7 linked regions of the Homo sapiens genome follow. The protein of the gene in region 6 purifies or fractionates together with the protein of the main gene of each other region. This does not show direct contact. Each region holds a gene or a part of one and is shown on either strand. Other genes may lie near its edges. The genes, in order: CTSA, RABL3, ROCK2, C1orf198, GLB1, RHOA and PKN3.

Region 1 (3,483 bases), on a different chromosome or scaffold from region 6:
GATGGAGTCTTGCTGTCACTCAGGCTGGAGTGCAGTGCTGCGATCTTGGCTCACTGCAACCTCCGCCTCCCGGGTTCAAGTGATTCTCCTGCCTCAGCCTTCTGAGTAGCTGGGACTACAGGCACGCACCACCACGCCTGGCTAATTTTTGTATTTTTTTTTTTAGTAGAGACGGGGTTTCACCATGTTGGTCAGGCTGGTCTCGAACTCCTGACCTCGTGATCCACTCACCTCGGTCTCCCAAAGTGCTAGGATTACAGGCGTGAGCCACCACGCCCAGCATCCCTGTACCTTTCTAAATGGTGGTGAGTTGAGGCTGTCTGAATCCCAGCCCATCCAGCCCAACATCCAAGTCAGTCCTAGAGAGGTGGCCCCCCCCCAAAAAGGGGAGTGGAACCCAGCTGTCTGCCTTCTGGGTTGGAGCTTGGAGATAGGAGAGAAGGTCTGATCTGTTGACTACTTTTCGCCCCGACCTGGTCTTCCTGGGGCCTGCTCGTATGTTCCCGGCAGCTTTCTGGTAAACTTACAGTACCGCCGTCTCTACCGAAGCATGAACTCCCAGTATCTGAAGCTGCTTAGCTCACAGGTGAGTGGGGAGAGCACAGCTGGATCACCAGCAGCCTTAGGACCCCAGAGTAGCACAGCAAGCTGGGGGCCCTTGAGACTTCCTGTCAGGACAAGGGAAGCTGAAACTCCGAAAGGCGAAGCCCAGGGTCCTGTGATTGGTGGGGTCAGAATTTGAACCTGGGTTTGTCCCCACCCATGCTGTCCTGCTATAGGAGGCCTAGGGGTCTGCATCAGCCACGGAGTCTTAAGGGTGAGAAGAGCTTCATTCATGCCAAAAATGGGCCAGCAGAGGTCCAGGGTGGGAGGAGACCTTGCACAAGGTGATATAGGAAGCACTGGCAGGGCCAAGTTAGGACTAGGTTCTGTCCAGCACAGTGGTTAATAGCATGGGCTCTGGAGTCACATGGCCTGGGTGCAAGTCCCTGTACTAGCCACATAATCTTGGGCAAATTTCTTAAATATGAGCCTCAGGTTCTCCATCTGTAAAATGGGGATAATAATGATATCTACCTTCACAGATAAAACATTTAGTAGAATACTGGACATGCAGTAAGTCGTTAGAAAACATGAAAATTCCCTGGTTCGTGTTATCTAGCTTGGCCCCTTGAATTTCCTGAGGGGTAGGCCTTGAACTAGGGAAGGGCTGGGGACTGGGCTTGTTCCACACCCCTCATTTTTACCCCATCCTGCTTTAGAAATACCAGATCCTATTATATAATGGAGATGTAGACATGGCCTGCAATTTCATGGGGGATGAGTGGTTTGTGGATTCCCTCAACCAGAAGGTAAGGTAGAGATTCCTGGCCCTGGGATAGGGGCTGCTGTGGAGGATTGGGAGCGGGTATGCCTGGGAGTGGCCAGCTGGCTGCCTGGCTCTGGCCCACAGAGGGCAAGTGTGGAGGAATTCCCAGCCCTAAGGTCTTGCTGGTAGCTGTGAGCAAGGATGCAGCTGCTGTAGGCTGATGTCTTTCCTGGTGGGGCAGATGGAGGTGCAGCGCCGGCCCTGGTTAGTGAAGTACGGGGACAGCGGGGAGCAGATTGCCGGCTTCGTGAAGGAGTTCTCCCACATCGCCTTTCTCACGATCAAGGTAGGGACTGGGCCTGCTGAGAGATAACTGGGCCGGAGGCAAAGGAGCAGGACCCACCCGTCCTTTCCCTCTGGCTGCCTTTTAGGCTGGGTCATGGGTCACCATCTGGCCCCTGTATGGGCAAGTTTTTTTGGAGAGGGGTGGGGAGGGTTCTGGGAAGAATAAAGGGTTTGGGATGAAGGAATTGCCCCCGAGTGAGCAGTTATATGGGGAGGAGGGAATGGTGGGGTCAGGAGCTCACGAACATTGCTCCTCAGGGCGCCGGCCACATGGTTCCCACCGACAAGCCCCTCGCTGCCTTCACCATGTTCTCCCGCTTCCTGAACAAGCAGCCATACTGATGACCACAGCAACCAGCTCCACGGCCTGATGCAGCCCCTCCCAGCCTCTCCCGCTAGGAGAGTCCTCTTCTAAGCAAAGTGCCCCTGCAGGCCGGGTTCTGCCGCCAGGACTGCCCCCTTCCCAGAGCCCTGTACATCCCAGACTGGGCCCAGGGTCTCCCATAGACAGCCTGGGGGCAAGTTAGCACTTTATTCCCGCAGCAGTTCCTGAATGGGGTGGCCTGGCCCCTTCTCTGCTTAAAGAATGCCCTTTATGATGCACTGATTCCATCCCAGGAACCCAACAGAGCTCAGGACAGCCCACAGGGAGGTGGTGGACGGACTGTAATTGATAGATTGATTATGGAATTAAATTGGGTACAGCTTCAAATCCCGTCTTCTCTGTGGCACTGGGGGTTAGAGGGGGCACTACAGGCTATGAATGTGGGAAAAGAGGGGCTGAGAGGGGTTGGGGTCCTGAATGACAGCTGCCAGCTTGGGGATTGAGGGCTCAGACAGCTGCTGTGGACGGTGTGGGGGCAGTGGACGCCCTGACATCAGCAGGCCGGTTCTTCTCAATCACCTCTCGCAGCCCTTTGGCAAAGTGGAGATCAGCCCCGATGGTGAGGAATCCCTGTGTTGGGGAGAGGGGAGCCTCATTTATTCATTCAGTTATTGAGGCCAGAGTTTAGAGATCAAGAGACAGAGTGTTTGTCTTTCAGGAACTCAATCTAATGGATAATTCCATGTCAAGGTGTTAAAATGAGGCTGTAGGAGTGTAGACTATGGGTGTCAAGGAGGGCTTCTTGGAGGAGGTGACCTCTGAGCTAAGACCTGAACAATTAGTAGGTATTGGGATGGGAGAAGAGTGCTCCAAGAAGTCACAGTGTGTGCAACGGCTTTTAGGAGTCTAAGATTAAAATGGGAGGGGCGACTGGTAATGGGGGAGCTGGGGTCAGGTAATGGAGGGCACTGGGGAGCTATAGAGAGAGGGGAAGGCCCTCCCTCCTTCCCCATCCTGCCCCCACTCACCGCATGGTTCGTCACCACCTCATGCACAAAGTTGATGCCCTCAGGTAGTGGGATCTGCACCCCACGCCAGGTCCGCTCTGTGGGTGGGAGCACCCCGCTCAGTCTGGGCCCGCCCAGTTCACCCCTCCTTTCTTCCTCCATCCTCACACCCCAGCCTTACCATTGAGCATGGGCATCACCCCAATCTGCAGCATGGTCTTCAGAGGGGCCTGTAATGGGATCAGCTGGGAGGGGCGAGGGCGGAAACAGGGCAGTGAGTCAGGGTTGGGTTTGCCTTTAGCTGCCCGCAGGTGAGCAGTTATATGAGGAGGGGGGGATGGTGAGGGTCAGGATCTCACGAACCCAGCCCAGCCCACCCACCCTTCCCCACTCACAGCCAGCGACTCCAGTGCAGAATGGTTGGAATAGATTCGGAACCTGCGGGAAAGAAAGGAGCCCTGTGGGCAGGAAGCCTGGAAGCTCCCCTTCCTCAGGCC
Region 2 (4,490 bases), about 71 Mb from region 6:
ATGTAGATTCCAGCAAGACCTAATAAAGAATAAGCACAACTAATTTAAAACCTATATTTCAAAGCCTCATTGATATTTATTTCCTATCTCAATTCCTTTCATCACTGATGTCTTCATTAACCTAGCTTGTTCTCTATTTTCTACTAAAATTTCTACTTAAGAAACTTATCCTTAAATTTAGGGTTAGGAGACAGCATATTCATATCAGAAAGAAATCTGCATTTTTGTCAGGGAATTCAGTAAAAGTTCTATACCCATTTGCATTTTGACACTACAGTTTCATTTTGATTCTATAGATAAACCTGCAAATGTATAAAACAACCTTAATACATTGGTGTGCTTTGTTGGTGCATTATTGTATAGCATCAAAAAATTTGGAAACAACCCTAGTGTCCGAGCAACGAAAGATTCATTGAATAAATAATGGCATATCCACATACTGGAGTAGTATTCAATGTTTAAAAAAGAATCAGGAAGATCTCTATGAACTAAAATAGAAAGATCTACAGAGGGTACATTATTAGGTTTAACAAATCAAAATGCAGAGAATATATATCGTATACCTCCTATTGTATAAGAAAGAAAAGAAATAATATGTATTTATATTTGGATAAAGAATCAGTGAAAAATAAGAAACTAATAAAAATGGTAACCTATAGGGGGCCAGGGGAGATGGGTGGATGGGTACAGTGGTAGGAGCAAGACTGCTTAGCATATATCTTTTATATCAGTTTGAGTTTTTAGCCATATTTAAACAATTTAGGTAAATTTTATATTATGTAGTTTTTACCACAATAACTTTTTTTAACTTTTTATTATAGAAAATTTTAAACATATGTAAATACAAAGAATGGAAAATGAACTCCCATATACCCGTTGCCTAGTTTCAACAATTATCAACATATAGCTAGTCTTGTTTCATCCATATCTCTACCCACTTTCTATCTTCTCCCACTCTCAACTGGATTATTTTGAACCAAATGTTAAAACATCATATCATTTCATCCATATATACTTTAAAACATAAGGGCTTTTTTTTAACATGACACCATATAATTATCACAGCTAAAACTTTAATAATAATTCTTTAATAACCAAATATTATTTTAATTTCCCCAATTGTCTCATAAATGTTATAATTGATTTTTTCGAAATAGTATCTAAATAAGGTCCACTGGTTGTATTTGGTTTCTTAAGTATCTTTTAATCTTAGGTTCTCCCTTTTTGGTTGTTTTTTTTCCAACCTCCTAGCACTTTATTTGTAGAAGAAGATGGCTGTTTGTCTTGTACAGTTTCCTATATTCTGGATTTGCTGATTGTCTCCCTGTATTGTCTTTTAAACTTGTTTCTCTGAATTCTAAATCTTCTCTGAAGTGATAATTAAATATAGTGGTCTGAAAGATGCAAGTTTTTTTGTCTTTATTTTTCCACCCAGTATTATGCATATAATATGATACCTGGCTGTGTGTCTCTTTGTGATGTTAAGGAGCTATCAGCCTTATCCATCCATGATAAAGTTCTTCAGAAGTTTACCAAAGAAGATTTCAAGATTAAATTTTAAATTGGATGCTGCAAGATTTTATGAAAAAGTTAAAAGGAAAGCTAAAAAGAGAAATAAGAGAGCAAACTATATATGTATGCTTTATATGTGTCAGTGTGCAAGGAATTGTGCAAGACTATATGAGAGATGTATGTACATCAAAGATGATATTTGATAGAAGATATGCAAAACTTTGTATGTGAGACAGAAGGAAACAGTCCTAAAGGAAAGACACTCTCAAAACTTCATTCCCTAACAAAGCGAATTGTAGCTTTGAACCATGTCTCTTTAATTAGAGTTGCTGTTGATATGAATAATCAAAGGTCTTGATCATGCTATTATTGGCTTTGATGCAATAAATAGAATGGTAATATTTTTGTGAGATGGGAGGTTGTATAGTAAAACACTTGTGTTCCGAGGCTGAACAGTTTGCTGAGGCGCTGTAAGATTATTGTGAAGGGCATAAATACTTAGTAACTTTGCCCCCTACCCCAATTTAGAATTTCTGTAAGAGAAAGAAAAGTAGTGTTAAAGGAAGAAAAAAAGCTATGCTCGACTGGGTTGTAGTGATTGGATTATGCAATATTGATTTACTGTCATAAATTGTGCACAACCAGATTTTGCTGACTGTTGTAAGTTGAGCTTATAACGTGTCAGAAATCCAAATCTGTTTTATTTCTAATATGTGAGTAGAATTTAAATTAATTCAACAGCAATGGCCTCTGTGTTCTTTTCAGTAATGAGAAGTATCATTTACATCACCACTCTGTTCTTTGGATAAATAAATTTTTTAAAAAATAAGGATTGTAATAGCCAGTGATCCAAGGCCACTAACCCTAAGTGGTTCTTATTGCCCGTCCTCTATCTCCCATGGCTCTCATTTCAGGAAACAACTACTTGGTACTAAGTTCTTTCCTTTTACTATTCATTTTGCATTTCAGCTGTTTCCTTCCATTTCCATGTGTTTAATCCACCTTTCCCAGGCTATAGTATCACCTATATTTGATTTATTCTAGGCTTCAGCTTCCCTATTTCTATTTTCTTATTCTTCTTATTTCTTTACTATTCAGACAGAAATGTGTATTGTAGATATAGAATTAATGCATACCCCAAAAGGTACCCAAGAAGCTTGCCATTTTCTCTTCTAGCACAAGGCTTGAGTGCCATGCTAGGCTTTTGGGTTTTTGCTACGATGAGGCTTAAATCCACTCTCTGCTTCTACTCTGAAATATTCCTGAGCTGTTATGTTAACCTTAGAAGACACAGCTACATTGGAAGTTAAGTCCACTGACTGTAATATACTTGATGGGCACTTAGTTGTTCAATTATTCAGTATTGTTCAATATTCAATAAAAACATGGGACCAAATTTTGAGAAGTTAGATGAATAGCTGGAATCTGATGATGAGGATGGATTGATAAAAGAACAAGTAGATGGAAGAAGTTGGAAGGAAAGTAGGTTTGTAGGTGAAGGCAGCAAAAATCAGTTAATTTTCAGTAAAATAGTGTAACTTAGTTGCACTTAAATATTACACATCTACACCAGAAAGATACATTCTATTCACCTCTTCATTATTATTTATCACAGGGATTATGATCAAGAACAGTTTGCTGATAACCAAATACCACTGTTGGTAATAGGGACTAAACTGGACCAGATTCATGAAACAAAGCGCCATGAAGTTTTAACTAGGACTGCTTTCCTGGCTGAGGATTTCAATCCAGAAGAAATTAATTTGGTATGTATTTTCACTAATGCATGCTTGTATTATTATCGGGTAAAGACAAAACTGAAGACATATTCAAATAATATATTCTAGTGAAAGAAGCTTTATACTTGAAATCAGGCTATTTGGATTCTAGTCTAAACGTAGTCAAGATTGGAATCAACATATCTAGACTGAGAGATGTGCACAGTCACTTCAGCCTTTTATGTTGGTCTGTTGGAATGTTCCAACTTTATTCTATGAATAATTTAAATCATAGGCTTCTTTTTTTGAAACAGAGTCTCGCTCTGTCGCCCAGACTGGAGTGCAGTGGCGCGTTCTCAGCTCACTGCAGCCTCTACCTCCTGGGTTCAAGCGATTCTCATGCTTAGGCCACCTGAGTAGCTGGGATTACAGGCATGTACCACCATGTCCAGCTAATTTTTTAAATATTTTTAGTAGAGATGGGGTTTTGCCATGTTGCCCAGGCTAGTCTTGAACTCTTGACTGGATTTGCCCTCCTTGGCCTCCCAAAGTGCTGGGATTACAGGCGCGAGCCACTGCACCTGGCCCATGGGCTTTTTCTTGAGAAAGGTTTTTAAAATCACACCAAAATTAAAATAAATTGATTAAAGTGGCACTATAAGCATATTATTCTTGCTTTTAAAAAGCCTCTTAGCTTCTTAAACTACAAATTTTACCTTAAAGGGCAACGTAACAAATACATGAAAAAATTGCAAACCTTAAACTAGGAGTGCTTCATAAGGACTAATTTATGTACACTTATGCATATATAGAGGATTGAGTCCCTTGATGAGATAACTAGCTCAATGAGAACTGAGCGCGTAAAAAAGCTAAGAAATGGTTGTCATGTAAGCCTGTTAGGATCCCAGAAAAAGATCCTGGCCAGCAATTTCAGTCATGGTCATGTTGTTCACAAATAGGATTTCTGCAACTGTGCACTGGCATTCCAGAAATGCAGTGGTGGTGGTGTAATAGTACTAGTGAGCAACATTTATTGAGCACTTACGGGTTGAAAACTGTTTTAGTTATTTACATACATTATCTCACATGCATCATCTTCACAATCAACTCTATAAGACAGGTACTATTACTATCCTCTTTTTAAAGATAAGAAGGAGAGACGTAACAAGACCAAGGAAGTTTACCCAGGTCAATTAGGGTATTCAGATTCAGAGCCTGTGCTCTACAGTTAAGCCTCTTTTGCACTTAATTAATCCTTCA
Region 3 (4,490 bases), on a different chromosome or scaffold from region 6:
TCATTGGTATGTAAGTAGCTGAAATCATGTGAGTGGAATAGCCCATCTGGGAAAAGACTGTGTGAAGTAGTGATTTTTTTTTTTCTTTTTTAGGACAGAGTAGATTACTCTGTTGGTGGATTATGTGGTTTGAGAAATCATTTTTTGTATGAAAGGCTTTATTTGGAAAAAAGCCTTTATCATATTTATGATATGAACTATAAAAATCAAAGAATTAGAAAACCTTTGGGGTTTATGTAGAAAATAGGAGGAGTATTGGGGCTTAGATCACCAACATTTAAGGGACAGCTGGGAAAGCTTCAGGAGCAACAGAAAGGATGCAAGCAGAATGGAGAGAACCAACTAAGTACAAGGTCGGCAATGCCAAGGGATAGTTTTAAGGGGGGCAGTGAGTTCAAATAAGACTGAAAAGGGTCTTTAGAATTTGATATTGAGAATAGCATTGGTCTTTTTGTTGAGATTAAGTGAGCTTGATACAGATCTCAGAACAGCAGAGTGGTGGTGTAGACTGTTGGGTACAGTGGGAAGTAGAGAAGTAGAGTATATAGATTACTATTCTAAAAGGTTTGAGTGAAGACGGGAGGGGAAATACTGAACATTCTAGTTAAGCCTGTTAAAAAACAAGTTAAGGTTGAGCACCATGGCCCACACCTATAATCTCAGCACTGTGGGAGGCTGAGTCGGGAGGATCACTTGAGCCCAGGAGTTCAAGATCAGTGTAGGCAGTGTTTAATGAGACCTTGTCTCTACATTAAAAATAAAATAAAATAAATTAGCCAGGAGTGGTGACAAACTTCTATAGTCCCAGCTACTTTGGAGGCCAAGGTGGGAGGATTGCTTGAGCCTGGGGAGGTTGAGGCTGCAATGAGCCATAATCAAACCACTGCACTTCAGCCTGGGTAACAGAGCAAGACTCTGTCTCAAAAAAAAAAAAAAATTAGAAAGCTTTTGAAATTGTGAGCTAGTCTCTTTTTTGTTGATAGCTGCATTTTAAATATTTAATAGGAAAAAAGCAACATGGAAATAGATATGACATACCAACTAAAAGTTATACAGCAGAGCCTAGAACAAGAAGAAGCTGAACATAAGGCCACAAAGGCACGACTAGCAGATAAAAATAAGATCTATGAGTCCATCGAAGAAGCCAAATCAGAAGCCATGAAAGGTATGCATTTTTTAAAGAGGGTTTTCCAGCAGCGTCTTCCTAAGAATTGATTCTGTGTTAGCTTTTTGGTTTTGAAACATTTTTTTTTATATTTCATTGTCAAATATTGGGAATTGGAGGGAAAAAAACTATTAGGGAAGCTTTACATAGATATTCTATTATTTTTCCTTTGTATCATTACAGTAATCATTTCTAAGATAGTAAGACCCAAACACAAAATTACATGATCAGATTTTTAGATCAGAGATAAATTAATATTTCTCAATATTATATACCTGGTAATATCTGTACCACTCGGTATACGTGTATCAGTAGTAAGAAGGAATATCTGAACTTCACACGCTGTATACCTGTTACTATTGATACAGGTAATTCTTGTAATACAAGAGTTTTGTATTATAAAATTCTTGCCAGTTTATGCAAGGTAAGAATTTAAAAGTAATAGCTGGTCTAACTAGAATATAAGTTCACTGAGTATTTTGATCTCTAACATGATGAAGATACTAGCCAGATTTGGTCGAAGCCATATAATACTAATAGATAACAAAGTTAACCTTCCCATAAACTAGACTTTATCCTGGAATTGTCTTAGGATAATTTTTTCTTTTCCAAACTGACTGTTTATAATGACTCTGAAATTCCAGAGAAAATCAGTACTTTAAGCTATTCTTGTGAAAGGCTTAAAACTCTTGAACAGAAATTTATTTTCATATTGAAGCATTACATGAGTAACTAACTTAGAAAAAATAGCCTTTTAATTATTGCATGTAATTAAAATGGTAGATTTTCTTAGTAAAAATCAGTGTAGTTTAAGGCACTAAATCAGGATGATAAGAAATGAAATGAGTACTTTATTTACAAAAATCTAATTGTAAGGGAGAAAGTTACTGGGCCATATTTCCTTGTCTGTGGCCTAGAAGACAGAGTTCAATTATTTTCATTGAGGTATAATTTACATGCAATAATAAAATGTAAACATTTTTGACATTTCGTGATATGCTCACATAACTACTGTTCAAAACAAGATAAAGAATATATCAGGCTAGGCATGGTGGCTCACATCTGTAATCCTAGCACTTTGGGAGGCCAGGGTGGGAGGATCTCTTGAGCCCAGGAGTTTGAGACCGGCATGGGCAACATAGCAAGACCCTATCTCTACAAAAAATAGAAAAATTAGCTGGATGTAGTCGCGTGCGCCTATAGTCAGAGCTACTTGGGAGTAGGACTCTCAGTATTCCTGCAATGATGCAGGAACATTGCTTGAGCCCAGGAGTTCAAGGCTGCAGTGAGCCATGATTGCATCACTGCACTTGAGCCTCAGTAGCAGAGCAAGACCCCATCTCAAAAAAAAAAAAAGGACTATTTTCATTATCTCAGTAATGCCTCTTTCTATTCTCAATGCCTACATTATGGTGATTGTTTTTTTTGTTAAATGAGGACATTTGTTTAGTGATTATTCTCTGAATTGATAAAAATGAACCAATTCAGTATTAACTACCATTTTTTTCAAACTATTAAAACGCTAATGTAAGATACATGATGACTTCCATATTTTACACATGAGTACACAAAACTGTTACATATTATAGATGGTTTCAAATCTGAGGCTAAAGCCTTTGGTCCTTCTGTTGCATGTCATTGGCTCCTTGGATTAAGAACATGGCTCACCAAATAATTACTAGCTATGTGACCTTGTCTAGTTATTTAAACTTTCTGTGTCTTGTTTCCTGTGAAGGGACAATTACAGTATTGTTACGTTGTTGTGAAAATCAAGTGCAATAAAACATGTAAAGTGTTTAGAAATGCTATTATTAGTACTACATGGGGAATGTTTCATTTTTCTGCACTTTTGAAGACCATTCATTAAACACTAAATATTCATAGGTTTAATTTTTACCTAATACAACTTTATAATAGATGATAATTAGATGTTGAGCATTAATTATGAAAAAGCAGAGGAGCCTTAATTGAATGTGAACTGAAGTACTAACCAGTATATCAAGATAATCCTTTAACTGTGATGACTTACATTTAACACTGAAATCACTTGGAACTTTGCCTTCTGATAAGTAAAATAGATTAAAAATTTATTGTAAATAATTTAGAAAACACAGGAAAGTATAAAGAAAAAAGCAAAGATTACTCATAATCCTATGAGTTAGGATACTATTTTGTAAATTTTCTCCACTTTCTATACCGTTTTGCTTTTTAAAAAACAAGACATTGTGAGCGTTTCCTTGGTCATTAAAAATTCTGCTTAAATAATAAGCACTTACCAAGTGCTTGCCATATGCCAGGCAGCATTTAAGTGGTACACATGTATTAAATCTTCACAACCTCCCTAGGTGCTGTTATCCCTATTCTGGAGATAAGGAAACAGGTCCAGAGAGGTGAATTACTTGCCCAGTCAAACAGTGTTAGACCCAGGGTTTAAGCTCAGAAAGTTTGGTTCCAGAGTCTTGTCCTTTACCACCTCCCTAAAACATATTTTTCAACACCTGCATAATAATGTGTTAACATGGAAAGTCCTATGGAGATCATAGAATCTACCTGGATTGTTTTAAGGTAAAAATAGTAACACTGAGAGACATAGAATAGCAGTAAGCAGTAGAATATAAGAAACCTTTGTTTAAAGATGTAAGCATCTTGTAGAATATAAATAAAGGTAGAACTATCTTGCTTCCATTAGAATAGATGTAATATTGCAGAGTGTGATACATTTTTACACCCTGTGAATGAAACTCCTAATTTTCAAGTATGAAAGTGAAAATATTAAATTGAAAATTAAGGCCAGGTGCAGTGGCTCATGCCTGTAATTCCAGCACTTTGGGTGGCCGAGGCGGGTGGATTGCATGAGGCCAGGAGTTTGAGACCAGCCTGGCCAACATGGCAAAACCCCATCTCTACTAAAAATACAAAACTTAGCTGGGTGTGGTGGCACACGCCTGTAATCCGAGTTATGTCTGGAGGCCGAGGCACGAGAATTGCTTGAATCCAGGAGGTTACAAAGAGCTGAGATTGCGTCACTGCACTCCGGCCTGGGCAACAGAGTGAGACTCTGTCTCAAAAAAAAAAAAAAGAAAAGAAAAAAAGAAAATTAATAGAATATAAGGCAGCATCATTTATTATAATTTTTATTAGTATGGTGTCATTTAATGTGCTTTTACTTACAAATTTATGATATGCTTCTTTTATTTGTAAATTTATGATTGTGTCCATTTTTATTATACTAGAAATGGAGAAGAAGCTCTTGGAGGAAAGAACTTTAAAACAGAAAGTGGAGAACCTATTGCTAGAAGCTGAGAAAAGATGTTCTCTATTAGAC
Region 4 (4,490 bases), on a different chromosome or scaffold from region 6:
CCTGGCAACCAACGATATTTTAACTGTCTCCATGGTTTTGCCTTTTCCAGAATGTAATATGGTTGGATTCATACAGTATGCAGCCTTTTGAGATGGGCTTCTTTCACTTAGTGATACTCATTTAAGGTACTTCCATGTCTTTGTATGGCTTGGTAGCTCATTTCTTTTTCTTGCTAAATAATGTTCCATTGTCTGGATGTATCACAGTTTACTTATCCAATAACTGAAACACATCTTGGTTGCTTCTAAGTTTTGGCAATTATGAGTAAAACATCTGTGTGTAGGTTTTTTGTGTGGACGTAAGTCTTCAGTTCATCTGGGTAAATGCCAAGGAATGTGATTACCTCACTCCTGTAATATATTTATTTGTGGAGGAATAAATATAGAAATAACTATAGCAGAAGCACAGTTGTGCATGGAGCTGTGGTTGGGAGGCCCTCAGTTGGTCAACATGTCCAGGGTGCTGTCATTATCAGTGACAACAACCAGTGTTGTCACTCGGTAATTAAACCTTACAGTTGATCCACAGGACAGGCTCTGGCATCTCTGAGGGAGTGATGGGCACGACACAGCTCACCAGGAACAACGTGTTCCACCCTGGATGAACCAAGATGGCCAGGCCACCTGGCATCACTACAGGGTGACACACTCTGCAACCTATGGGACTTTCTGTCCTGCTCACATGCTCTGCTCTCTAAGCCTTATTTCTCTAGCTTATAGAATTTCTCAGTTTACATTTCTTACCTTCAAGCCAAGATGCCACAGGTGTCAACCAGAAACTCTCCTTATTTATGGATTTCAGGAAGACGATGACCATTTCTGGCATCAATACGCGTGTTGCCGTGTTCCAAGATCCTGATGCTGTTTTAGAATCACCCCAGAAAGCCCCTCACTCCCCGCCTAGCTGTTTTTCCTGGAACAGCTTGTGGAGGCCCTAAGGGAGCCCCCATGCTGGACAGCTCCCTCTGCAGGCGCTATCCATCCACACACCAGAAACACTTGCAGAATGTGATGAATATCAGGATGTTTGTTATGGTTGTAGCCTGTGGTATGCTGGAGCCGGCTCTGGGGGAGTGAGGCGAACTAGCCCTGACTTCTAGCATTTGCTGGTTGCCATGACCAGATACTCCACCATGGCCCGTTGCACGCTGTTGGCGTGACTCACGGGATGCATATCTGGGCACCGCGCTATATGGTATTTCCACCTTACACATACAATGGATGCAAACAACCTTAAGACCATGGATAATAGTAACTGTATTGAAATGATGAGTTTCTAGTGTTTATTACTTTTTTTGGGGGGGGCACACTTTAAAAAAATTCAGTTTTTACAGTAGTTTTAGGTTCCAGCAAAATTGAGCGGAAAGTACAGAGAGTTCCCACACAGACCTTTCCCAAAATGTACACACAGACGTGCATATGCACACAGCCTTTCCCACCACCAACATCCTAAACCAGAGTGGTGCACTGATTACAATCAGTGAACCTGCATTGTTTTTATCATTGTCAACCGAAGTCTCTGGTTTACACTAGGGGTCGCTCTTGGAGGTATACGCCATGATGGTATCATACAGAGGGGATCCATTGCCTTAACAGAAATCCTCTGTGTGCCACCTGCTCATGCCTCCCGCCCCCCAGGCTCTGGCAGCCACTGATCTTTTTACTGTCTCTGTAGTTTTGCCTTTTCCAGAATATCATATAGCTGGAATCATACAATATGTAGCCTTTTTAGATTGGCTTCTTCCACTTAATAATATTCATTTGAGGTTCCTCCATGTCTTTCCATGACTTTTTATTGTGGTAAAATACATACAACATAAAATTTACCGTTTTAACCACTTTTCTGTGTATAGTCCGAGGCATTTAGTACAGTCTCAATGTTGTGCAATCATCACCACCATCCATTTCCAGAACTCGTGTATTATTTAAAGTGAAACTATATCCTTTAAACAATGAAACTCTGTATATATTAAACAATAACTCCCCATTTCCTGGCCTCAGTCTCTGATAACCTCTATTCTACTTTCTGTCTCTATGATTTTGCCTACTCTAGGTACCTTATATAAGTGGAATCACATGATTTTTATCCTTGTGTCTGGCTTAGTTCACTAAGCATAATGTCTTCAAGGTTCATCCATGTTGAAGCATGTATCAGAATTTCCTTCCTTTTTAAGACTGAATAATATTCCATTGGATGGATAGACCACATTTTGTTTATGCATTCATCATCTGTCAGTGGATACCTGGTTGCTTTCATCTTTTGGCTATTGTGAATGGCACAGCTATAAACATCGGGGTATAAGGATCTCTGAGCCCCTGCTTCCAGTTCTTTCGGGTGTATACCTAGGAATGAAATTGCTAGAACAAATGGTAATTGTATGTGTAATTTTTTGAGGAACTGCCGAACCGTTTTATATAATGGCTGCATCATTTACATTCCCACCAAGAGTGCACAAGGGTTCCAGTGCCTCCACATCCTACCAATACTTGCCAGTATCTGCTTTTTGATAGTAGCCATCCTTGTGGGTGTGAAGTATATTACCTTTATTTTTAATACAATGGACTTAATTGCAAGTTTGTATAATTCACCTTTTTAATCACAGCAGTTAAACAAGATATTTAACAACAGGTTCAAGAAATTCCTCAAAATTTTACAATCAGCTCTCGTTAGTTGGTGCAGGCCTGCTCCAACACACCTCTGGTTGCAGCCTTGCAGCCTCCAAAAATAAAAGTGTCTAGGAACCACAGAGTTCTTAAGCCCTCCAGTATCCATTTTTTTTATCAACAAGTAAAGAAGTAAACGCTGGCGATATGATGCAAACATGTATTCCAGCACTATGAGCAAAAAATATATGTTATTATTTTTAATTCTGTTTCATTTAGGATTTAGGAGGTGCACACTGAATTGAATGAACATTTCCCAGAGAAGAGCAAATACTCAAGGTCTCTGGGATGTTAGGGAAAAAGATTGTTTGTGTGTGTGTTTATCCCGGAGTCCTTGGAGCTGCGTGGGGACTGGCAGAGCCTCTTACATGTAGCGCTGGCCTCTGATAATTGCCAAGTGCTCTGTGTTTCTGGTGGCTTTCTATAGCTTCCCCCCTGCTTTTTGGCTTTCTGCTCTGGGATTTGGTGACCTGGGGCATCTTTCTGTTCTGCACTCCAAAGAAGTCATTGTTTCTGGAGAGATTCAGTGCTGCCCATTTGGTATGGATGCCTCTTACGGAATTTGACTCTGAGGATAAGTCCTGGCCAACAATGAAGCCCACTCTCTTGTCGTGTGGCCTAAGTAACAGATGTGTTTTGACACTTAGATGATTTCAGATCCTAGGCGCCAGAGAGGGGGGTGGGAAAGCCTTCCAAGCAGTCCTAGAAAAAGCATATGTGATTGGTCCAAAAGCATGTGCCTGGCCTCATTTTGGTTGCAGGCTGGTCACCATGGGAGTAGAAGAAAGGACAGCATTGTATGCGTGTGAGTGGGTGCCGCCACTTTGCAATTCTGATTCCATTTGCATCCAACAGCCCAGGGAGCCTGTTCTTGCCGCCAGTGCTTTTTTGTGGCTAGAGCGTGCAGTCCACGGCTGACATCAGAGCTTCCATCACATTTTTGTTTGGCATGTTTATTTTTGTTAAGCACTTTATTGTTTTTTATGAGCTCAGAATTACAGAAACCCAAGGAATCTGCCCCTTGACTTCATTTCTTGCTGGAGCAAACAGAAGACTATTGACTCGACACTAAGTAGGGGAGAAATCACAGTGTGACCCTTTCTCCTCCTGTGACCCCCTTGGAATTTCAGCTAATATGGGTTGCAGTCACTGGAGAGTTGACTGTCCCCAAGCTCTGGGCTAAGTCTTCGTTCCTCAGAGTGTTGTATTGAGCCACCTTCCAAAGCCAAAAGCCTTATTATTTTAATCTTTGCAGATTTCAAAGGGACTTAAGGTATATAATTAATATTTAGAATCATATCGAGTAACAGGGGAGTCCAGCTCCATCATGCCCCACCCTGGCCAGTCAGTGGTCCTGCCCTCTGCCTGCCCCGCAGGTGTTCATGCACTTCCTCTTTCCATTTGGGTGGCCAGTGGCCTGTCTGATTCTGGATGGAAGGAGCACCTTTGCCAGTTGATTTCCATTTACCTTTTTCGAAAGATCCAAAGCTGGATCTCTACTCTACCCTGTGGATGGCCGGTTCTTCCTCCTGGAACTAAGAGCTGTGAAGAGCCGGTGAAGTCTTAGGGGGTGTGTGAGTGTGGGGTGTGGAGGCTGGGGAGGAAAATCAACCTGTGAAAATATCCAGGCTTGTGCAGAGATCATTTATTCACGAAGAGTTAATGAATGATTAACTAGAATAAATGATACTTACATTCCATCAGCCTCTTTTATTTTTCCCATGTGAAAACAAAGCCCTTCTTGGTTTGATTGCTTCTAAACGGAACTCAGAGGGTTCTGAGGATTTTAGGGACTTTGGTTATTTAGCTCAACTGTACCCCTAGCA
Region 5 (4,490 bases), about 16 Mb from region 6:
CTGTACAAAGTTTGTTGAACTTCGTGCCTTTATCCTACATGAGAAATTATATTCTGAAGGACTGCTCGTGACAACTATTACTGAAATGCACAAAGAACCGTGTTTCATAACAAAAGCAGATGCATTTCAGGACTTCCAGTCCTCTCACCGAAATGGTCACAGGAAGGAACACAGGAAAAGATTTTCTTCACCAAGAAAATTTGTTCAGAAGATTTTAAAATATTTCCCATTCTCTTGTAATCAACAGCTTTCATTTCAGTGGGAGCAGATTACTAAGACATTCTGCTCTATTGATGGTGACTGTTTCTTCGCTTCTAACTTGGGTGTTGTCTTAGTGAATTATGATCATTGTAAGGTCAATTTTTAAAGTCTAACCTTTTAAAAAGTTAGGAATATGTTGTTGATAAAATACCTGTTGTTTTTCCTCATTCTGTTGTATGATTTTCGTGGTTAATGCATCATGTCAAGTATTTTGAGGTGAGAATACTCCACCTAACTTCTCTGATTTTATCTCTTTTGTCTGATTTTGTCTTATCTCTCCATGTTGTTCAGAAGCAATTTTTTGTGAGTGACTTTTGTGCTGTCAGAACACGAAGCAGCTACTCTAGTAAGAATCCTCCCCTGGAATTTTCCACTAAAAGTAGTTGGCAGTAAAACATTCCAGGGCAAAGGAAACCAGCTTAGACCGTTCCATGCTCTGAGCTGTGTCTGGCAGTTTTCCTGTTTAGGAAGCAGTGATTGGGGGATCTTTCCGACCTGGCCGGTAACTTGGGCTAAGATGCTATCAAAGCATTTCTTTCCAAGTCTGGTGACACTTCAAGGCAAGAAAATGAGTGCTAAATTAACTGAGCATGCTGCCTCTCCTTGCTGACCTTCTTACCCTCAATTCAATTGTCATTTGGTCTTGAACCCCACAGATCCCCCAGGGAGTCCTTGAGCGAAACAATGTGATCACTCTGAACATAACAGGGAAAGCTGGAGCCACTCTGGACCTTCTGGTAGAGAACATGGGACGTGTGAACTATGGTGCATATATCAACGATTTTAAGGTAGGACAAACCACACTGTCAAGACTAAGGTTTAAGGGGTGACAACTTAGAAGTTGAAGCCCAGTACAGTGGCTCACACCTGTAATCTCAGCACTTTGGGAAGCCAAGGCAGGAGGATCACTTGAGGCCAGGAGTTCAAGACCAGCCTGGGTAAAATAGTGAGACCTCTACAAAGAATTAAAAACTTAGCCAGGTGTGGTGACATGCACCTGTGGTCTCAGCTACTCAGGAGGCTGAGGCAGGAGAATTGCTTGAGTCCAGAAGTTGGAGATTAAAATGACCTATGATCATGCCACTGCACTCTAGTCTGGGTGACAAAGTGAGACCTTGTCTCAAAAAAAAGAAGTAGTTGAGCTATTTTGAAGAGCTGTTTTCCTCTGTAGGTGATGAGAAAGTTGAGCTTTGCAAACAGAACCTTTCCCCTGTGTTTGAGTTTGGTCATCCTATAGAAAGAAACAGAAGGAGGAAGCCCCTCCACCATGCTTTTCCTCTGCTTTAAAAGACCACCAAGCTCACTGAAGGCACTCCTTTGCCAGTAAAGCCAGCTGAGCCTCTGTTCTGCCCTGTTTTATGGGTTTGGATGGTTAGCCTGTGGCAAACTCTTCACTTGTAGGAAGCCTCTTCCCTTGGGGCACTGGCTCTCACCTCTGTTGATTACTCCTGTGTCCAGATGTGTAGCCCAAATAAGTTTTTCTAACACATATTTTTAGAGCATTATTCAGCAAGCATTTGTTAAGCTCCCACTCCGCGAGATGCCCCACCAGGTGCTTTGGGGAATGCAAAGGTGTCAAGAGACAGGCTTCTCTCAGGGAGCTCAACCTCCGCGAGAGGAGAGAATGCCTTATCAAGGGAACAATGGCACCACCCAGGCTAGGGCAGGACAGGTGTCTGGGGCTATTTCCTGACCCTCTTGAGATCAGGCAATTACATCTTAGGGAACTTAGGGAATAGCTGTGTGCAGGCCACCTTTGCCTCCAGTATAAATGTCTCTCTCATAGTTCTTGTGCTCAGGGTGGACTTCATGGCCTCCTGCCTGGCTCTCACAGGCCACATTGACCCATGGGAGTGACTCGACTCTGTTGTGTAGTCTCTGGGTCTCCAGTACCTGTCAAAGAGCCTGACATACAGCCACCTGGTTAATATTTATCAAATTATTAAATGGGCAATCGAGACTTGGTATCTGGGATTCCACTGGGAATGGGGAAGTTCCCTACATACAAGCCAGGGAAGGGGAAGTTAGCTGAGCCTTGACAGCCCAGCCCTGGCCTGTGTGGAACAAATAGAGCAGCTTCTGAATTCAGGTCTGAGGTTTGCCATCGTCATCATTACCTTCCTATCCTCTTAAGGTATCACAGTATTCTCATGTATGTTATCTCACTTGGCCCTCATAACAGGTGAGTGACTCGGGTGTGGTCCTCCCTGTGATGATGGCTGAGGTGCTCAAGGCCAATATTTGCTCCTGGCTGCATCCGTCGTACCTGCTCCATCCGCAGTGGGATGACTATTCCTTTGTATCCCACACTCACTCATTCCTTCTGTCCCCAGATTCCATCTTGAGACAGGATCTTGCTGTCACCCAGCCTGGAGCGCAGTGGCACAATCTCGGCTTACTGCAACCTCTGTCTCCTGGGCTCAAGCAATCCTCCCTTCTCAGCCTCCCAAGTAGTTGGGACTATACGTGCATGCCCCCACACTAGGCCAATTTCTGTATGTTTTGTAGAGACTGGATCCCTTTTTGTTTTGAGATGGAGTGTCGCTCTGACACCCAGGCTGGAGTACAGTGGCGCGATCTCAGCTCACTGCAACCTCCACCTGTCAGGTTCAAGCGATTCTCATGCCTCAGCCTCCTGAGTATCTGGGATTACAGGCACCTGCCACCACACCCAGCTAACTTTTGTATTTTTAGTAAAGATGGGGTTTCATCATGTTGGCCAGGTTGGTCTTGAACTCCTAACCTCAAGTGATCTGTCTGCCTTGGCCTCTCAAAGTGCTGGGATTACAGGCATGAGCCACTGCGCCTGGCCCATCTTTCTTGGTGCCCATCTTTCTCTATTCTAGCAGTGGCTCTCAGCCAAACTCTGAAAATTTGGGAATTTGGGATCAATCACTCTAGCAACTCAATGCCCTTTCTGTAGAAGCAGAAACTCTGGGCCTTTTATAGAGACATCATGACCTGCAAAGGAGAAAGCTATAGTTTGGGGAATATATCTCTTCCCAAGGATTTGTAATTCAACCTCCAGTTAGATCTGTGTTACTTCGATGTACACATATTTCGAGGTTCATTTCCTGTTGGTGTTTTGTATCCCGGTTTGCTTTTCCCATTTCCCTGGAATGCAGAGACATGTGAAGCCTTTTTCCTTCCCTCCCCAGCTCACTGTGCTCTGTTTCTGCTTTGCAGGGTTTGGTTTCTAACCTGACTCTCAGTTCCAATATCCTCACGGACTGGACGATCTTTCCACTGGACACTGAGGATGCAGTGTGCAGCCACCTGGGGGGCTGGGGACACCGTGACAGTGGCCACCATGATGAAGCCTGGGCCCACAACTCATCCAACTACACGCTCCCGGCCTTTTATATGGGGAACTTCTCCATTCCCAGTGGGATCCCAGACTTGCCCCAGGACACCTTTATCCAGTTTCCTGGATGGACCAAGGTACGTGTCTTCATGGGAAGGGTTTGAATTCAGGCCTAAACTTTTGGTTGTTAGTGTCTGAGAAAGAATCACAAAGAGCTGTTAGTGAGATATCGTGTGATGGTTTTGAGTGTGGCGTTTCGGACATTCTTCAGGAGGCGGATTGTGGCAGATCTTCAGGGATTCAGTGGCCAGCTCGGAGGTGCTGCCATCTGCCCCCTTGTCATTGGCTTCCTGTAGTGAATGACACCATCCTGCCTCCTCCAAGAAGAATCATGACCCCTTTTGATGCTGATTATAGGGGTGCTTTCTCTTTATCTTGAGGACAATCCAGTCAAGACAAAGAGGTGGATCCCTCTGGGAGAGTCTGTCTGGTTTTCATTTATGCCAAGCCCAGTGCTCCCAGAATATCCCCACCTGCATCCAGCCCCACACCCCTGGGGCTTCTATCATAAGCTGTCTGCTTCTCCACTCTTCCTCATCCATTTTCACTTCCCAGTCACTCCGCCTTGTCGTTTGAAGACATTGGCATATCTTCCTTCACCGCCTTCTCCTCTCCCTCATGTCCTGTTTTCATCCTAGATCACCTTACCATCACTCATTCAACACACTTCTCATTCTGTGGCCACTATGTGCCCAAGGTGTGTGCCAGGCACTAAGGATACAATCATGAATAAAACCAAACATGGTCCTTTCCCTCATGGAACTTTCAGTCTAGTGAGGGAGGCAGACTCATATTAAAAAGTAAAACCATAGCTGTGATGGATGCTAAGAAGGGCTATGGGGTTGATAATAATTGGTGCATTTTG
Region 6 (4,490 bases):
CTGGGATTACAGGCGTGAGCCACCATGCCAATCCTTTTTTTTTTTTGACAGAGTCTCACTGTGTTGCCCAGGCTGGAGTGCAGTGGCGCGTTCTCAGCTCACTGCAACCTCCGCCTGCCTAATTCAAGTGATTCTCATGCCTCAGCATCCTGAGTAGCCTTTCAGGGGTTACAGGTGCCTGCCACCAACCCAGCTAACTTTTTTTTTTTTTTTGAGACGGGGTTTTTCTCTTGTTTCCCAGGCTGGAATGCAATGGCGAGATATCGGCTTACTGCAGCCTCTGCCTCCTGAGTTCAGGAGATTCTCCTGCCTCAGCCTCTCGAGTAGCCGGGATTATGGGTACATGCCACTACGTCCAACTTATTTTTATATTTTTTGTAGAGACGGGGTTTCACAATGTTGGCCAGGCTGGTCTTGAACTCTGGACCTCAAGTGATCCGCCTACCTCAGCCTCCCAAAGTGCTGGCATTACAGGCATGAGCCATTACTCCTAGCCTTGACTGCATGCTCTTGTTTGAAGATATGCATTGAGCACATTTCCCTATCATCGATATGCTTCTTATTGTGCTTTCATGATTAGTAGTATCTTCAATTTACTCCCTTTTTGCAAAAAAAAAAAAAGTTACTAGATTTTGTAGATTTGGATAAAATTCTATAATATCTGTATCTATATATATACACACACACGTATTCACTGCTGTATGTAATATTGTCCTGAGAATTCACAAATGAGTAATGGCAGCACTGTCAGCCCTCTGAGTTTTTTTGTTTTGTTTTCATTGTTTATTTTTGTCGTTGTTTGCCCTCTGAGTTTTCTTCTGGTACCCCTGTGGATTGTCTTATCCATTCTGGTTGGGGAACATACCCTTTAGACAATATAGTTTTGATAATGAGTATTTATTATTATTATTATTATTATTATTATTATTATTATTATTATTATTTTTGAGACAAGAGTCTCTGTCACCCAGGCTGGAGTGCAGTGGCATGATCTTGGCTCACTGCAACCTCCACCTCCCAGGTTCAAGCGATTCTCTTGCCTCACCCCACCACGCCTGGGTAATTTTAATATTTTTAATAGAGATGGGGTTTCATATGTTGGCCAGGCTGGTCTCAAACTCCTGACCTCGTGATCTGCCCGCCTCGGCCTCCCAGTGTGCTGGGATTACAGGCGTGAATCACCATGCCCAGCTGAGTGTATATAATTTAGGATTAGTTTGACTATAGGTAACAGAGACTTGAAAAATACCACCTTAAATAAGACAGTCATTTATTTCTCATTCATATGGAAGAAACATGGAAGGTAGGCAGTCTTGGGGCTGAGATGGTGGCTCCCAAGATCACCTGAGATCCAGGCTCCTTTTTACCTTTTGGTTCTTCCAGCCCCACGGTATGGCATTCATTCTCACATACCAGGATGGCTGCTTAGAAACCAGCCCTTACTTTAGATTTAAGCAGCAGGAAAGGAGGAGGATAATAAAGACTTCCCTTTAAGAAAGACTTTCTGGAAGTCCCACAACATACTGCTGATTCTCACATCTCATGGTACATGGCCATGTCTCCAAGGGAAGCTAGGAAGTGTAGTCTACAACAAAGTACATAGCTAAAAATCGAAGTATGGTCTAGGAGGGAAGGGCGGGAATTGGGATGGTTGACCATCACTGTCTGCCAGATGGAAGGAATCTGCAGATTTCTCTCTTTTTTCCCCCCACTGGGGGCGAGAGTGGTGGTAACAGCTTTATTGAAATATAATCCACATATCTTACAATTCACCTTTTTAAAGTGTGAATTATATATACTGTGGGCTGGGTGCGGTGGCTCACGCCTGTAATCCCAACACACTGGGAGAGACAGGCAGGAGGATCGCTTGACCTCAGGAGTTTGAGAGCAGCTGGGGCAACGTGGTGAAACCCGGTCACTACTAAAAATACAAAAAATTAGCCGGGTGTGGTGGCATGCACCTTTAGTTCCAGCTACTTGGGAGACTGAGATTGGAGGTTCACTTGAGCCTGGGGAGGCTAAGGTTGCAGTGAGTGGAGATCGCACCACTATACTCCAGCCTGGGCAACAGAGTGAGACCCTGTCTCAAAATAAATAAAATGTGTGAATTATATATACTATAATCAATAGTTTATAGTATATTCATAGAGTTGTGCAGCCATCACCACAATAATTTTGGAAAAATCTTTTTACCTGAGAAACTCCAGTATTCCATTAGTCATTTTCCATTTCTCTCCACCCCCAAGTCCCTGCCCTAGGCAACTACCAGTCTATTTTCTCTTTCTGAATTTGTTTATTCTGGACAATTTTATATAAATGGAATCATGCATGTTGGTTTTTGTGACTGGGTTCTTTCACTTATATAACATTTCCAAGATCTATCCATACTATAGCATATATCAGTACTTTATCCTTTATCGCTGAATAATATTCCATTCCATTGTATGGATATATTATATTCATCAGTTGTTGGATATTTGGGTTCTTTACATTTTTTGACAATATATTATGAATAATCCTGCTATGAATATTCATGTAGAGGTACAAGTTGTTATGTGGACATATGTTTTTGTTTCTCTTAGATATATACCTAGGAATAGAATTGCAGGGTCATACCTACTCACATCCTTTGCTCATTTTTTAATTGGATTAGATTATTTGTCTTTTTATTATTGAATTGTAAGAGTTCTTTATTTTTTAATTTTTTCTATATACTGTATTTAGGCCTGGGGAGGTGGCTTATGCTTGTAATCCCAGCACTTTGGGAGGCTGAATCGGGAGGATTGCATGAGCCCAGGAGTTTGAGACCAGCCTGGGTAATATAGTGAAACGCTATCTGTATAAAAATTAGTCAGCTGTGGTGGCAGGAGCCTGGTAGTCCCAGCTACTGGAGAGGTTGAGGTGGGAGGATCGCTTGAGTTGAGCCTGGGAGGCAGAGGCTGCAGTGAGCCAATATTGCACCACTGCATTCCAGCCTTGGTGACAGAATGAGACCCTTTCTGAAAATAACTACATAATAGAGAAACACATAGATAGGTTAGATAGGTACATAGATTGGATAGATGCGTAGATAGATGGGCAGTGGCTCACGCCTGTAATCCCTCAGCACTGTGGGAGGCCGAGGCGAGTAGATCACTTGAGCTCAGGAGTTGGAGACCAGCCTGGGAAACATGGCAAAACCCTGTCTCTGCCAAAAATACAAAAATTAGCTGGGCGTGGTGGCGCATGCCTGTGGTCCCAGCTGCTGGGGAATTTGAAGTGGGAGGATCACTTGAGCCTCGGAGGTGGAGATTGCATTGAGCCAAGATCACGCCACTGCATTCCAGCCTGGGTGACAGAGTGAGACCTCATCTCAAAAAAAAAAAAAAAAAAAAAAAAGATAGATGGATAGATAAATAGCGTACTTCATGTCAGAAGGAGTTCTCTCTTTTTTTTTTTTTTTTTTTTTAAGACACAGTTTCACTCTGTTGCCCAGGCTGGAGTGCTCTGTTGCCCAGGCTGGAGTGCAGTGGTACAATCTGGGCTCACTGCAACTTCTGCCTCCTGGGTTCAAGCGATTCTCCTGCCTCAGTCTCCCGAGTAACTGGGATTACAGGTGCCCACCACCACACCCGGCTAAGTTTTGAATTTTTTGTAGAAACGGGGTTTTGCTGGGTTGGTCAGGCTGGTCTCGAACTCCTGACCTCAAGTGTTCTGCTTGCCTCAGCCTCCCAAAGTGCTGGGATTACAGGTGTGAGCTACCGTGCCCAGCCCAAAAAGAGTTCTTTATGATTTCAACCTTGCAAGAGATCCTGAGCCAGACCACCAACCTAAGCTGCTTTTTTGTAGTTGAGTCATAAGAGTTTGAGACAAGGTTCCACTCTGTCACCCAGGCTGGAGTGCAGTGATGCAATCATAGCTCACCACATCCTCCACCTCCTGGGCTCAAGCAATCCTCCCACCTCAGCCTCCTTGGTAGCTGGGACTACAGGTGCATGCTACCACAACTGGCTGATTTTTTTTTTTTTCTTTTCCTTCTTTTTTTAGAGACAGTGTCTCACTGGGGTTCCCCAGGCTGGAGTGTAGTGATGCAATCTCAGCTCACTGCAGCTTCCACCTCCAGGGCTCAGGGGATTATCCCACCTGAGCCTCCCAAGTAACTGTGATTAGCATGCACCACCGCTCCTGGCTAATTTTTTGTATTTTTAGTAGAGACAGGGTTTCACTATGTTTCCCAGGCTCGTCTTGAACTCCTGGACTCTCAAGCAGTCCACCTGTTTCGGCCTCCCAGATTGCTGGGATTATAGGCGTGAGCCACTGCGCCCGGCCCTTTTCTTTCTCCCCTCCCCTCTCATGCTTCCGTCCGTCCTTCCTTTCTCAGTGTCTCACTATGTTGTCAGGGCTGGTCTCTTAACTCCTGGGCCTGAGCATTCCTCCTGCTTCAGTCTCCCAAAGTGTTGGGATTACAGACATGAACCACTGTGCTCGGCCTCAATTGATTTTTCTTTTTT
Region 7 (4,490 bases), on a different chromosome or scaffold from region 6:
CGCCCGAATCCTGCTGCCCGGCCCTGGGCCTGGCCCAGCTGGTGAGTGAGGAGCTGAGACCCCCTCAGGACAGAAGGCTCTAGGCCCATCTGGCCCCTGGCCTTGGCCCTGGCCACTGTGGCGAGACCACCTCATTTCCTGCCTATAGATCAGTAGGGGAAGGAGGAAAGGCCACAGTGGGGGTCTCGGCTCTGGGTGAGGGACTCCTGTGCTCGATACCCCCGTGCACAGAGCCTGTGGCCTCAGGACCCCGGCCGTGGGCAGAGCAGCTCAGGGCTCGGCACCTAGAGGCTCTCCGGAGGCAGCTGCATGTGGAGCTGAAGGTGAAGCAGGGGGCTGAGAACATGACCCACACGTGCGCCAGTGGCACCCCCAAGGTAAGGCCCCACAGTCTGATGGCAGGAGCACCCTGGCCCCTGGTCTGACAGGGAAATGCACCTCAGCCATTGGGCTCATAAGGAGACACCATTCCAGCCTGCAGCCTGATGGGGAAAATACAGCCCCAAACCCCAGCTGGGTGAGGAAGGCATGGCTGTAGTCTCTAGTGTGACAGAGAAGGCCTTGCCCTGGTCTAATGGGATCCTAGCCCAGCCCCAGTCCCAACTCCCAGCATGATGTCCAGAACTGGGCCTCAGTCCTTGTCTGACAAGAAGACTTGGCTGTGGCCCTGATATGATGACGGAGGCAGGACCTTAGCCTTGATCTAATGGGGGAGGCTTAGCTTAGCCCCTGCCCTGATCTGATGGGGGAGGCTTATCCCCAGCCCTGATCTGATGGGAGAGGCTTAGCTTAGCCCCTGCCCTCATCTAATGGGGGAGGCTTAGCTTAGCCCCTGCCCTGATCTGATGGGGGAAGCATCAACCCTGCTCTGATGGGGGAGGCATGACCACAGCCCTGATCTGATGGGGGAGAGTTAGCCCCAGCCCTGATCTGATGGGGGAGAGTTAGCCCCAGCCCTGATCTGATGGGAGAGGCATGACCCCAGCCGTGATATGAAAGAGGAAATTTGACCCCAGCCCTTGTTGGTCAGATGGAAAAGGCTCCCCTGACCCACCAACTAGTCCAACAAGGGAGGCTTGACTTTAGTGTTTGGCCTAGAGGTTTCACTTTAACCCTGTTTTGATGGGGGAGACCCGGCTCCAGTTCCTGGTCTGATGGGGGAAGCTGTGGCCCAGGCCTGGTCTGATGGGCCTGTGCTATGGCTCCATAGGAGAGGAAGCTCCTGGCAGCTGCCCAGCAGATGCTGCGGGACAGCCAGCTGAAGGTGGCCCTGCTGCGGATGAAGATCAGCAGCCTGGAGGCCAGTGGGTCCCCGGAGCCAGGTGAGGCCTTGAGACACAGGGAGGGCGGAGCAGGGAAGAGCAGGGCCTGAGAGCCGCCGTCCTTCCCACAGGGCCTGAGCTGCTGGCGGAGGAGCTACAGCATCGACTGCACGTTGAGGCAGCTGTGGCTGAGGGCGCCAAGAACGTGGTGAAACTGCTTAGTAGCCGGAGAACACAGGACCGCAAGGCACTGGCTGAGGTCAGGCCCCAGCCCTGGCCCTCTCCTAAGGCTGGCTTGTTCCCATACCACCCTCAGCAGGGGTGTGAAGGGAGGGTGGCCGTGTAAAAGCAGGACTTCTCTGTTGAGACTTCATGCGGAAGGTGGCTCCGGGTGACCTGGGCTGCTGCCCCCTGCCATATACCCCACGAACCTGGCTCTACGTTGTCCCCTCTGCAGGCCCAGGCCCAGCTACAGGAGTCCTCTCAGAAACTGGACCTCCTGCGCCTGGCCTTGGAGCAGCTGCTGGAGCAACTGCCTCCTGCCCACCCTTTGCGCAGCAGAGTGACCCGAGAGTTGCGGGCTGCGGTGCCTGGATACCCCCAGCCTTCAGGGACACCTGTGAAGCCCACCGCCCTAACAGGTAGTCAGAAGTTCCTCCCCCTTCAAAGCTCTCCTTCTTTTTGGGGGGAGGCCGGAAGCACAAACAACTCTGATGAAGAGTTCAAGAGTTCCAGTCCTGCCCCAGCACCCACTAGCAGCGTGACCTTGGCAAACTGACATTCCTTCTTCAAACCTCAGTTTATCCATCTGTAAAATGTGGATGATATAGCACCTACCTCATAGGGTTGCTGTGTTGCACGTGATGTGCTAAGCACAGTGCCTAGCACAGTCAGCACTCGGACAGCGTAGCTTGTATTTACATAAATAACCAGAATAATGCTTAAAGCACTGGTGTTAGGAAGCTCGCAGCCCTGGAAAGCTTGATACCCAGCACTGGGCAGCTTGGACTGTTAGAAAGTTTTCTAGGCTGGGCGTGGTGGCTCACGCTGGTAATTCCAGCACTTTGGGAGGCTGAGGTGGGTGGATCATGAGGTCAGGAGTTCCAAGACCAGCCTGGCCAAGATGGTGAAACCCTGTCTCTACTACAAATACAAAAATTAGCCGGGCGTGGTGGCGGGTGCCTGTAATCCTGGTTGCTCAGGAAGCTGAGGCAGAGAATTGATTGAACCCCGGAGGCGGAGGTTGCAGTGAGCCGAGATCACGCCACTGCACTCCACCCTGGGCGACGGGGCAAGACGCCGTCGCAAAAAAAAAAAAAAAAAAGGTTTTCTTGGGCCAGGCATGGTGGCTCATGCCTGTAATCCCAGCACTTTGGAAGACTGAGGTGGGCGGATCACCTGAGGTCAGGAGTTCAAGACCAGCCTGGCCAACATGGTGAAATCCTGTCTCTACTAAAAATACAAAAAAGTAGCTGGATGTGGTGGCACATGCCTGTAGTCCCAGCCACTCGGGAGGCTAAGGCAGGAGAATTGCTTGAACCCAGGAGGTGAGGTTGCAGTGAGCTGAGATTGCGCCGCTGCACTTCAGCCTAGGTAACAGGGCAAGACTCCATCTCAAAAAATAATAATAATAATTTCCTTGGAAAAAAAATAATAAAATTAAACTAAAATTGCTGGGTGCAGTGGCTCACACCTATAATCCTGGCACTTTGAGAGGCTGAGGTGGGAAGATTGCTTGAGCTCAGGAGTTTTTTTGAGACCCAGTCTCAAAAAAAAAAGAAAAAAAGAAAGTTTTCTTGGCTGGGCACAGTGGCTCAAGCCTGTAATTCCAGCACTTTGGGAGGCTGAGGTGGACGAATCATTTGAGCCCAGGATTTCTAGACGAGCCTGGGCAACATAGTGAAACCTCATCTTTAGAAACAAAAAAAATTAGCCGGGCGTGGTGGCGCATGCCTGTAATCCCATCTACTGGGGAGGCTGAGGCAAGAGAATTGCTTGAACCTGGGAGGCAGAGGTTGCAGTAAGCCAAGATTGCACTGTTGCACTCCAGCGTGGGTGACACAGCAAAACTCTTTCAAGAAAAAAAAAAAAAGAAAGAGTTTTCTGGTCTGGCTCAGTGGCTCATGTTTATAATCCTAGCAGTTTAGGAGGGTGAGGCATGTGGATCACTTGAGTCCAGGAGTTTGAAACCAGCCTGGGCAACATGACAAAGCTCCATCTCTACAAAAAATACAAAAATCGCCGGGCGCGGTGGCTCACGCCTGTAATCCCAGCACTTTGGGAGGCCGAGGCGGGCGGATCACGAGGTCAGGAGATCGAGACCATCCTGGCTAACACGGTGAAACCCTGTCTCCACTAAAAATACAAAAAATTAACCGGGCGTGGTGGCGGGCGCCTGTAGTCCCAGCTACTCGGGAGGCTGAGGCAGGAGAATGGCGGGAACCCCGGGGGGCGGAGCCTACAGTGAGCCGAGATCGCACCACTGCACTCCAGCCTGGGCCACAGCGAGACTCTGTCTCAAAAAAAAATAAAAAAATAAAAAAATTAGCCAGGTATGATGGTACGTACCTGTAGTCCCAGCTACTTGGGAGGCTGAGGTGGGAGGATTGCTTGAGCCCAGGGAGGTTGAGGGTACAATGAGCCATGATCGCGCCACTGCACTCCAGCCTGGGCAACAGAGAGCCCGTCTCAAAAAAAAAAAATTAGGCTGGGCACGGCAGCTCATGCCTGTAATCTCAGCACTTTGGGAGGCCGAGGTGGGTGGATCACCTGAGGTCGGGAGTTCGAGAGCAGCCTGACAAAAATGGAGAAACCCCGTCTCTACTAAAAAATACAAAATTAGCCGGGCCTGGTGGTGCATGCCTATAATCCCAGCTACTCAGGAGGCTAAAGCAGGAGAATTGCTTGAACCCGGGAGGTGGAGGTTGCAGTGAGCCAAGATGGCACCATTGGAATCCAGCCTGGGCAACAAGAGCAAAACTCTGTCTCAAAAAAAAAAAAAATTTGCAAAAATTAGCTGGGTGTGGTGGCGGGCGCCTGTAGTCCCAGCTACTCGGGAGGCTGAGGTGGGAGAATGGCATGAACCTGGGAGGCGGAGCTTGCAGTGAGCTGAGATTGTGCCACTGCACTCCAGCCTGGGTGACAGAGTGAGACTCCAAACAGAGTGAGACTCCGAGCAGAGTGAGACTCTGAGCTCTGTCACCCAGGCTGGAGTGCAGTGGCGCGATC

What was found.
Region 1: the proteins of RHOA (region 6) and CTSA purify together in Homo sapiens (co-immunoprecipitation; 5 studies listed by BioGRID and IntAct, with this or other methods). This does not show direct contact.
Region 2: the proteins of RHOA (region 6) and RABL3 purify together in Homo sapiens (affinity purification with mass spectrometry; 3 studies listed by BioGRID and IntAct, with this or other methods). This does not show direct contact.
Region 3: the proteins of RHOA (region 6) and ROCK2 purify together in Homo sapiens (affinity purification with western blotting; 3 studies listed by BioGRID, with this or other methods). This does not show direct contact.
Region 4: the proteins of RHOA (region 6) and C1orf198 purify together in Homo sapiens (co-immunoprecipitation; 3 studies listed by BioGRID and IntAct, with this or other methods). This does not show direct contact.
Region 5: the proteins of RHOA (region 6) and GLB1 purify together in Homo sapiens (co-immunoprecipitation; 4 studies listed by BioGRID and IntAct, with this or other methods). This does not show direct contact.
Region 7: the proteins of RHOA (region 6) and PKN3 purify together in Homo sapiens (affinity purification with mass spectrometry; 4 studies listed by BioGRID and IntAct, with this or other methods). This does not show direct contact.

What each region holds. Positions count from the first base shown.
Region 1 is NC_000020.11:45,896,455-45,899,937, forward strand, and holds the end of CTSA (lysosomal protective protein isoform b preproprotein), read left to right. Parts: intron 1-510; coding exon 511-586; intron 587-1,262; coding exon 1,263-1,352; intron 1,353-1,550; coding exon 1,551-1,655; intron 1,656-1,912; coding exon 1,913-1,996; 3' UTR 1,997-2,366; downstream 2,367-3,483. Other genes in the region: PLTP (phospholipid transfer protein isoform a precursor), read right to left, coding at 2,487-2,609, 3,008-3,084, 3,168-3,231, 3,382-3,424. UniProt on the Homo sapiens protein: Protective protein appears to be essential for both the activity of beta-galactosidase and neuraminidase, it associates with these enzymes and exerts a protective function necessary for their stability and activity.
Region 2 is NC_000003.12:120,697,211-120,701,700, reverse strand, and holds part of RABL3 (rab-like protein 3), read left to right. Parts: intron 1-3,127; coding exon 3,128-3,278; intron 3,279-4,490. UniProt on the Homo sapiens protein: Required for KRAS signaling regulation and modulation of cell proliferation. Regulator of KRAS prenylation, and probably prenylation of other small GTPases. Required for lymphocyte development and function. Not required for myeloid cell development.
Region 3 is NC_000002.12:11,208,356-11,212,845, reverse strand, and holds part of ROCK2 (rho-associated protein kinase 2), read left to right. Parts: intron 1-1,005; coding exon 1,006-1,165; intron 1,166-4,398; coding exon 4,399-4,490. UniProt on the Homo sapiens protein: Protein kinase which is a key regulator of actin cytoskeleton and cell polarity.
Region 4 is NC_000001.11:230,858,211-230,862,700, reverse strand, and holds part of C1orf198 (uncharacterized protein C1orf198), read left to right. Parts: intron 1-4,490.
Region 5 is NC_000003.12:33,013,268-33,017,757, reverse strand, and holds part of GLB1 (beta-galactosidase isoform a preproprotein), read left to right. Parts: intron 1-917; coding exon 918-1,049; intron 1,050-3,447; coding exon 3,448-3,702; intron 3,703-4,490.
Region 6 is NC_000003.12:49,377,129-49,381,618, reverse strand, and holds part of RHOA (transforming protein RhoA isoform 1 precursor), read left to right. Parts: intron 1-4,490. UniProt on the Homo sapiens protein: Small GTPase which cycles between an active GTP-bound and an inactive GDP-bound state.
Region 7 is NC_000009.12:128,705,503-128,709,992, forward strand, and holds part of PKN3 (serine/threonine-protein kinase N3), read left to right. Parts: coding exon 1-41; intron 42-231; coding exon 232-377; intron 378-1,210; coding exon 1,211-1,322; intron 1,323-1,393; coding exon 1,394-1,521; intron 1,522-1,719; coding exon 1,720-1,903; intron 1,904-4,490.